2 separate regions of the Homo sapiens genome follow, and region 2 is linked to region 1. Evidence: fine-mapped expression QTL. A gene starts in region 1. The other region holds a variant in brackets. All regions are shown on one strand. Distances are between the middles of the regions.

Region 1 (4,388 bases):
GGGCCGCGTGGCCTTTCTGCGCCGAGGGCTGCTGGGGGCGGGCGGCGAGCCTGGCGGGTGACCTGCTCTTGGGTGGGCCCCGCAATGCCTGCGCCCTAGACGCCGGCCGGGACGAGGGGCTGGCTGGGTCTGAGCCTGGAGAAACACAAGGGTCAGCCCCCAGTGGGCGCAGAGGTGGCCCAGGAGGGCCCGCGGACGGTGCTGCGCTGCGCTCAGCCTCCGGGCCGCTCCCCGCGTTCGGCGCGCACCTGCCCATCGAGGCGGCAGGGCCAGCAGGCGGCCTAGGCGCGGCCGGGCCACGCGGCATCCCCCAAAGCTGGAGCTCGCCGACTCTTCCCTACCTTTTCAAGAGACCGTAGTCGTGCCCAGAACGCCGGCGTGGCCCAGACTCCATTTTGGAACTTCGCAGGCTGGCGTGGACGAAGTAAACACATTTATGGAAAAACCCCGGGGTTAGGAGGTTTGCGGAAAGAGGGAGCAGCTCGTGGGGTTGGAAATTCTGCCTACCCCTCGGGAAAACCAAACGGTTCTGCACCCAACGTACACATACTTAAGGGCGGGAAAGGTGTGAAGCCCGCTGCTGGGGAGTTGCCTCCCCTTTGATGAAAAGGAAGTGCGAAGCGTAGGAACGCTCTTCAGGTCACCACCCCGTGAGTGGGAGGCTTGGGGAGTCTGAAGGAAGAGAAAGCTCCCTCCAAATCTCCCAAACTGAGAAAAGCTGCAGGAGGAATGAGGCAGTTGGAGAGAGAGGACCGCAGGCATCCCGCAGCTGAGGCTCAGGACTGAGCTCTAAAATGAAAGCACCCCTATGGGACCCACCAGGCAAAACGTTAAAAAAAAAAAAAATCTGAATGCTTAGGCATTCTGCTGCTTCCATTCTGTGTGTCAAATCTACTTTGAAGCAGTTAAGTACTGCAGGATATTAAACACTCGAATCTCCGTTTCAAGCTCACTTTTTAATCTTTGCGAACTTAAAATTGGAAAGACAGAAAAAAAATCTGCGACCCCTGTTATGTTTTACCAAAGGAACGAAAAATTCTCTCCACCTCGGCATAAATAAAATAGAAAGAATTTTATCTTAATAAAATAATATCTGGGAGCTTCTGCTTGACTCCCCAATTACTGCTTAACCTTTTGACAGTTTTTAGCCTCTGCTTGTATTTATCTACTTCCCCGCACGATTGAGATTTTTTGAATTGTCCTTTGGGGCGTCTCATTCAAAACCATCTTTCGACGGAACACTTTTGAATTGTACAGCCTCTTGGTTGAAGATCTACGTCCTCAAAGTGCGGGCTTGCCGTGGAGTAACACAGATCCCCTCTGGCAACTCGTCTGGGACGAAGGGCGTTTTTGCTTAGTGTTGATCACGCAAATCACATCTGAAAAGAAGCTGCTTAAAATGGGTGTGTATCATTCCCTTCCTGTCACTCGGTCACCCCTATTCCAGAGAGGTTGAAGTGCTTTTTGCAGTTACACTCACACAAGACCAAACCTTTAGAAGGACCTGAAAAATGTATCACTGCACTTTGAATTCTATTAACTTTCCTGGAGACTGAACATTGAACTCAATTTTTGCTGGGAATGAAGATGTAAATGTTTTGAAAAACTAGAATCGCATTTTCCTAAATTTTAAAAATGATTGTTCTTCACCAATTCCAGATGGATTCTTTATTCTTTGCCAATGGGTTGCAGATGCCCACTGTTTTAACCAAGTTGGTTTACTGCGTATGAAATGAACATTTGCCGATTAAAGCTTAAATATTGGAAGAAATTTCTCCTGGGGCATTCCACGCGTCTTTGCAATAATTACTAAATTAGTCAATTGCCACCTCTGTAAACAAACTTCGTTTAGAAAACAGCAGGCGAAAGCAGACTACACATGTAGTCATAATTGACCAAAAGTATGTACAAAACTGTTTAAAATTGGGGAAAGAGTGATTTATGCTGGAGAATGCAGTCTAGACCTGAATTATTTTACTTTACGGTGAAGGTAGTTGTATTGAATGTGTTAAGATGTGCAAATTAAGCCGGCGAGCGAACCAAATAAAAATACTAAATGCCCTTTGGGATTCTCTGTGGAGTCTTTGAGAGGCAGAGAAGCAGTTGTTGAGTTTCTAATGGTATAAGGAAAAGTGGCAACGAGAAGAAAGGGGGTGGGTATTGTGTTTGTGTGTGAGTTTTGAACTGAGTCACCTACGGCTGCGTCTCTATAACAGGGAAACCTCGAGCAAACCTGTGCCTTTAAGACTCAGTTGCTATCCAAACAGAAGTAAACAGAGTGGACCATTAGCAGACGCCGGGCGCGGAGGCGGAGCCAGGGCGCTGAGGGCCCCGCGCGGCGGCGGGACGCCCGCCCGAAGGGGAGGCGGGGCCGCTACTAAAGCCCAAGACTCCCGGCCTGGGGCAGCCTGGGGAGGGACGCGGGCGGGGACGGAGCTCGGCGTGCTTGCTGCTGGAGGGTGATGGCCCTGCAAGGCTGTGGGCTCCGACCTCACCGGGAGTCGACAGCGAGAGGTTCGCCGAAGAGCGAGGTTCTGGGCGAGCGCTGAACGCCGGCCCCAAGCACCCCGGGTCTTTACACAGTCCGCGTCCACAGACTCTGACGAAGACGTGGATCTGCTCTCGCTTTAGCTGCTCGCGGTCCTCCAGATCATGTCCGCGACTCCTGCGACTCCGCGCGGAAAAAAAAGTTTGCCAGGCGTGGACTCAATGACCTTTCCAAGCTGTGCGCCTCGCTGCCTGGACCGGGTCTGAGCGCGGCTGCCCAGGTTGACCTTTCTGCGGGAGGTGAGTGTTCGCTCTGGGAAGGGGCTGTAGCTGCCCTTTGGAAGGAAGGGTTTGGGGGTGTAAGAGGCGTTCAGATTCTCGGTCTGGTGTGCCCCAAATTCAGATGTGAAAATAGATCATGGGGATGCAATCCCAGGGCACTGTATTTCTCACTTCCTTGGGTCCCTGGCACGCGACTCCCAGCTAACACCCAACCACACACATTTCTACATACTGTTTCTTAATTTTGTTTTGGGATATTTAATCTAAGCGGTCAGCAAGACTTCTTATAAAAGCTGGTCTACGTACACTGAGATCAAACCCCACAATCCCATGGTGTTTCTGCTCCTGCCCTAGCAAGCCTGGGTCGACTTGTCCCGGGGCAGCCGCGGCAGCGCAGCGTGGACGGGCCCGGACACCCGGTGCCTGCCCAGCCAGCGACGCTGAAGGCACATTTCAAGAGGGAAATAGTTCAGTCCTCGGTAATTTGTCAACCTCGTGCTGGCTTTAAAATTCTCCTCCCACCTTCTAGTCCTGACTGAGGGGGCCCAAAAGCAAACTCCCCGGGGGCTTAAACGCTCGGATTCCTGAGAAACGGCAAGTGAGAAAGGAGTTGCAGTTGTACGAAGAAGGAGCGAGGAAAAGGTGTTTGTGGAGGGAGCCCCGGATCTGTCTTCCTACCTGTTAGCCGAGAACAAAAGGGGGCTGGCGTTTCCCGAAGCGAAAGGGCGCAGACAGCCACTTTCTCTGCTAAACAAACTGCAGTCCTGGGCAGAACAAGAAAATTACTCACGCAGGGGGAGCAAGGGGAGCACAGAGAAACAGAACCTAGATTATGCGGAAGGCATCTTAATTTAATTAACTCCTTGGGAAGGCAGAGGCGCTCTGAAGGGGCAGGAACTTCGCAGCCGTTTCTCTATTCACCTGATACAGTCTGGCCCTAACAATCTGTCCTTTAACAATTTTTTTTCTTTTTAATGATCTTCTTTGATCTACTTAGTCTATAGCTCTCTAATTTATATAAAATTCTGCTGTGGTTTGGGCTGAAATTCAGTGAGCCTACCTATCCGACCATCAGTCATTTATCTCATATACCAGTGCACAGGTTTTAGCAGATGAACCCTGACTGTATATTATTTTTAGATAATTCAGTGTAATATTACCATTACCAAAGAGCGAAACTCCTTATCAAGTTACTTCTTAATTTTTTTCTCCAATGTTTTGAAAGCTTCACTGAACTGAAATAAGTGTGTACACATCTTCCTTGGTGACAGCCAGTCAAGTAAATTTTACAAAATTTCTCCACATGCCTGGAAATTCCTGTGAAGAAGACTGATGAAAGAAAAGTAGCCTCAGCTCCACCAACATATTTATGACTTTTCATTGGTTTAAGTTTCTTTCCTTGCAAGATTAAAAGTAACCAGTGGTCTGAAACGGGACGGTGGAGAAATGACAGCAGATGATGATCGCTGTTATTTCCTGAAAGGGAGTGTGGGAACTACAAGGCTCAGCTCTAGACAAAACGAAAGTACTTTAGGATCTCTGCATTCACTTAAAATACTTCTTTTGACATACATTTCCAGCAACTCAATGGGAGTGTGGAAATTTAACCTTCCTAATTA
Region 2 (4,388 bases), 580 kb before region 1:
TAGATGTTACCAAAATTGTTCTCTAAAATGGTTTTTCCTACCTGCTGAATTCCTGTTTCCCTATATTTTCACCAATACTTTGTATTGTTGTGATTTTCTGTTTTTACCAAGCTAATAATGTGCAATTGAATTTCCTTGTTTAAACCAAATACTCTCACTTACTGTTGAGGCCCAGACATCTTTTCATAGGTATATTGGACATTCAGGGTTCTTCTGTGAATTGTTGGCTTATAGTCTTCATTTTTCTATTGGAATCTTTGTCCTTTAAAATAATGACTTAAAGAAATTCTTTATATTTTTTGAATATTAATCCTTTTTAATTTGTTTTTTACTTTTCCAGAAGTTTATAATTTTAACATTTTCCTTTATGATTTCTGACATTACTGTCTTATCTCCATACCATAAAAACATTCTCTTGAGCATTTAGGTCCTTAAGCCATCTGAAGTTTATTTTTAATTGTGGTGTGAGGTAGGGATCTAATGTTTTTGTTTTTGTTTTCCACATAGGAAGCCAACATACTTATTGAATGGTTCAGTTTGTCCACTAATTTATAACGCCTCCTTTATCATAAACTAAGCTCCATTTTATGGTGGATCTATTTCTGAGCTTTCCATTCTGTTTTACTGATCTATCTGTCTATTCCTGCTCCACCCACCCCCACCTGGCTTCAGCTGAGACTGTCACATAAAACCCATGGCTTTCTATCCTGACTCCCATGTCCAACATCAGCCTCCCCAGTTTTGCCCCACACACGTCTACTAGACCTATCTTTCCAAGAGTCATCATTGCCTAATTTATTGCATGCCCACTGTATGCTAGGCAGCATGCCAACTACACATGCATTATTCATTTGTTTGTCACTGCCCTGTAAGTCAATGCCTATTTTGCCAATCCGGACATCAAGGCTCAGAAATTGAGTAACTTTCCCATGTCACACAGTTAGTAAAAGACAAAGTAGAGACTGGAACTCAGGTCTGTCTCCAAAGTGTTGGTGGCTCTCCAGTTTCATTTTCCAGCATTCTCTACCTCTACAATCTGTCCATCTGTAAAATGGGGATATTCATCCCTCCCTCTCAGGGTTGTTATAAGAATTGTGTGAGATTAGATATGTGAAAGCACTTAGCACAATGCCTAGCCCATAGTAAGTATTCAATAATCATCAGCCAAATTTGAATAAGAAGCAGGCAGCAGTTGCTAAAAGTTTTCTTAAAAAGTCAAACCTTACCCCAGCCCATTTATCCTGGCTTTAGAATCCCAGCAGGAGATGAGTGAGTCAGTGGGGGTGAGTGCTTAGGGATAGAAATAATCTTTGGATCGCTCCCCCTTCCACTCTTCTTCTGGTTAGAGGCTCCCAAGAGCAACAGGAAGGCCAGAATATGGGAAGCTGATGAGGATAGGAAACCCTTAGAAATCATACTGAGTCCCTGCTGAACCTCAGAGGCTGCAGGCCAACTGCTGTTCTGAAGTTCTGGACTTGCACAGCAAGCCTGTCTACTGAATGGCCATCACGACCCAGATTTCACATCTCCAGGTACCTGGGGCTGGAGCGGGGTTTCTTCCTCCCTGTTTGGGCTGCCTGGACTAAGGCTATAGCCAGAGTCTCCTTCTCTTTAGTGACTGCCATGTCAACAAGGCAACTGTAGACCTCCCTCAGAGGAGGCAGGTGAAAGAAGACAGCCTTTCGGGGCAACTCTCTGGCTAATGGGAAGCACATTGATGAAGGAAGCCGACTGACTTGAAAAATCCAGCACCAGCATGCAGGCTGCCTTTAAGGCTGGAGGATTATGGCCACTTGCAATTTTCTTGCTAATTAAAGTTTTCATAGGAAAAGCAAACACATATCTACACATGTATGTATGAACTTGCACGCTGATTGTATTTCAGAAGCAGTGGGCTGAATGCTTTGGTTGCTGGCTTTCTTTGACTCCACCACTCACATCTGCGCTGTGTCATTGACAGCTCTGGCCATGGCCCCAGGGCACTCTGCAGGGGTCAGAA[TA/T]AACAGAGAAAAACAGCAGTGGGGAGGACAGCACACTCTCTCCCTTGTTTGACTTGGAACTCCTGCCTGAGTCTTGCAAGAAGCAATATGTTGAATTTTAAAAGAGGTGAAAACTACGTCAGTTACTGAGAGAGAAATCTGAAAGAGCTATAGCCTATCTTCCTTTGCTGGGATCTGGCCTGGGGTATGGAGGCAGGTGCTCACTGCCACGGGAGTCCTCTGGAAACTGACTTACTTGGAAAGGGCAGGACTTCTCGCTGAAACAGTCTCTGCAGTTTCTCAAAAGTGGGTGGGGATCCTGGGCCCCCATAACATGTCTACATGGTTAAGAAGAATGAGACATCCAACCAGCATTTAGGATTGCAGAGATTTGAAGGAGAAGCAGTTCATTATAGGATCATAAAGGGGCCCCCGTTCCTTGACATGCTAACATGGGAGCACACAGGTTCCCACACAAACCCCTAACACATGGCAGGTGACTTGCATATGCACCCACACCTCCATGGACATGTCCAGGGTTAGGTTAGGTCAAATCTAGGGAATGGCAGCTGCAACCAAACCTATGTCTCCTGCATTCACAAAAGCGTGTCAGAATGAAGGTAAGTTCCAGTAATGTAACAGCAAAGGAACTCACAATTATCATGCTTGATTGTTTGTCACAGATGAACTGTGATGGTGCCATCACATCTGATGGTGCCATCTTGGAGGCAGCAGACCTGATTTCCAGCCCTGGTCCTGGCTGTAACTTGGTGACCTTACGTAGGCCTTCTCGGAACATTGAGCTCTTCATCTGTGAAAGAGTGAGGTTGGGGCTGATGGCCTCAAGGGCACTGGCATAACTAACATTCTCTAGGTCAAGCTCCTATTGTACTTTGCATCACTGGACATGTCTGAGATCCCTGGAAATGAGGATGTACCAGAATTTCCAACTCTCTCGCTATTCCTGCTGGGTCCTGCAACCCTTCTCCAGTGGAAGTTTTCTGCTCCCTTGATTGCCAAATATCCTCTTAATCTCCATCCCTTCCCCCTAATATTCTGTCCTCAGGAAAGGATGTGATAATTGTGTGCCCACTAAGTATCAATTACTAAAGCAGGAGGAAGAATTACCTTTTAACAGAATGAAGCTTTGAACCAAAGGAGTGAAGCCCTAATTGCATAATTGCAGCTGGTGAGTTGAAGGGGAAGGTATTTGGGAGTTAGGACCCTAATTACATAGATGCCTATCCTATTGCTGAAGCCTAAAACGCTACCATTAGCAACTAAGTTCTTTTACTATTAAGGATCTTCTCCCCACAAAAGCAATGTATTAAGATTCAGCAGTCATTTAAGGCCTTGGTAGGAGGGAGTTTTTTGGATCTTTTTTTGTGTATTTTTAATACGGGGGTTCAGGGGAGGTGAGTGTGAAGGCTGGGCAGAAGGCTAGGTGGTTTAGCAGCTGGAGGATGTAAGATGAATGTCCTGAAGGGGAAAAAAACAAAGGGCAGGCCTGGGATTCCAGAAAATAAGTTTCATGTGCCCTACAATTGTGATGAGGGTCTGCCTTGCACTGGGAGCTCCCTTGCAGGGAGGAGGAGGGGCCCAATAAAGAAATCAGAAGGAATTCTAGACATGTTAGAGCAGTGCAGGCCTCAGTGATAAAACAAGAGGCTCTGTTGAGTCACTCCATGGAGACGGGAAGTACCCCCACCCAAAATTTTGTTCAAATGTTAAGACTGATGACACCACCCATGCACCAAGAGGGTATTAAAAAGGTTTATTGCTCAAGTAATGAGGTTTTCTAGGGAGAGCAGGGCAAGCTCCCAAGCACATCTGAAATGTGGCTTGGGCTTTCATGGTGCCTATGGTGTGGGGATGGGGTGAGGGTTCCTGCGTGTGGGCAAAGGTTTATGTGTTGTGTGGCTTCAATTCCTGCTAGTGCTAAAGGAAGGTGAGCCCAGGCATTCTCACCCACCTGCACAGATATGGGGCAGAAGGGGTGGGATGGATGGGGCCTCACAGTCAGACATCAAAAATGGGATTTTGATTTTTTTTTTTTTTTTTTTTTACAAGCTGGGAAGCAGCAACAGATCCAGTTTGTCTCTAAGGCCCATCAAGCCTCTCCCTAACACCAGTAGCCCCCGGGAACCCTGGGCCTCCCAGGTCTTTAATGTTTGTTGGGTGGGGGCTGAAGTGACTTCAGCATTCTCAGGCCAGTGGACCAGGAACTTTCATTCTTTTAGGAACTAGAGAGGCCTGTTAAAAATATATCCTAACTCCACAGACCCCCTGACCTCTGCAGTGTGTGTGTGTGTGTGTGTGTGTGTGTGTGTGTGTGTGTGTATCCTTAGAGAACACTGGCTTTAACACTGATCCCAAGCTTCAGAGTCTTGCATAATGAAATGACTGGGC

Alleles and levels. Positions count from the first base shown, and alleles are read on the strand shown. Sizes are in standard deviations (SD) of each study's normalised expression.
In carriers of allele T in region 2, the expression in left ventricle of the gene that starts at base 2,406 in region 1 tends to be higher than with TA alone (small effect, 0.24 SD a copy in GTEx).

The links. PIP is the estimated chance that this variant, and not a neighbour inherited with it, causes the effect. A credible set is the group of variants that fine-mapping cannot tell apart.
Region 2: its variant is the best candidate, but not a certain one, in a credible set for the expression of OSR2 in left ventricle (GTEx, PIP 0.74).

What each region holds. Positions count from the first base shown.
Region 1 is chr8:98,942,037-98,946,424 of GRCh38, forward strand. OSR2 (odd-skipped related transciption factor 2) reads left to right here and starts at 2,406. Exons shown (of 4, transcript NM_001142462.3): 1 at 2,406-2,787. LOC112268016 (collagen alpha-1(I) chain-like) reads right to left here and starts at 574. Exons shown (of 2, transcript XM_047422523.1): 1 at 1-574. The coding sequence starts at 307. It also overlaps a transcript of STK3 not described here. RefSeq lists silencers at 53-312, 2,165-2,524 and enhancers at 2,670-3,170, 3,171-3,671.
Region 2 is chr8:98,366,066-98,370,453 of GRCh38, forward strand. It overlaps LOC124901988 (a long non-coding RNA gene), which reads left to right and starts at 1,449. Exons shown (of 2, transcript XR_007061024.1): 1 at 1,449-1,532; 2 at 1,616-1,836. It also overlaps a transcript of STK3 not described here. The variant TA/T (reference allele first, on the strand shown) is at 2,000.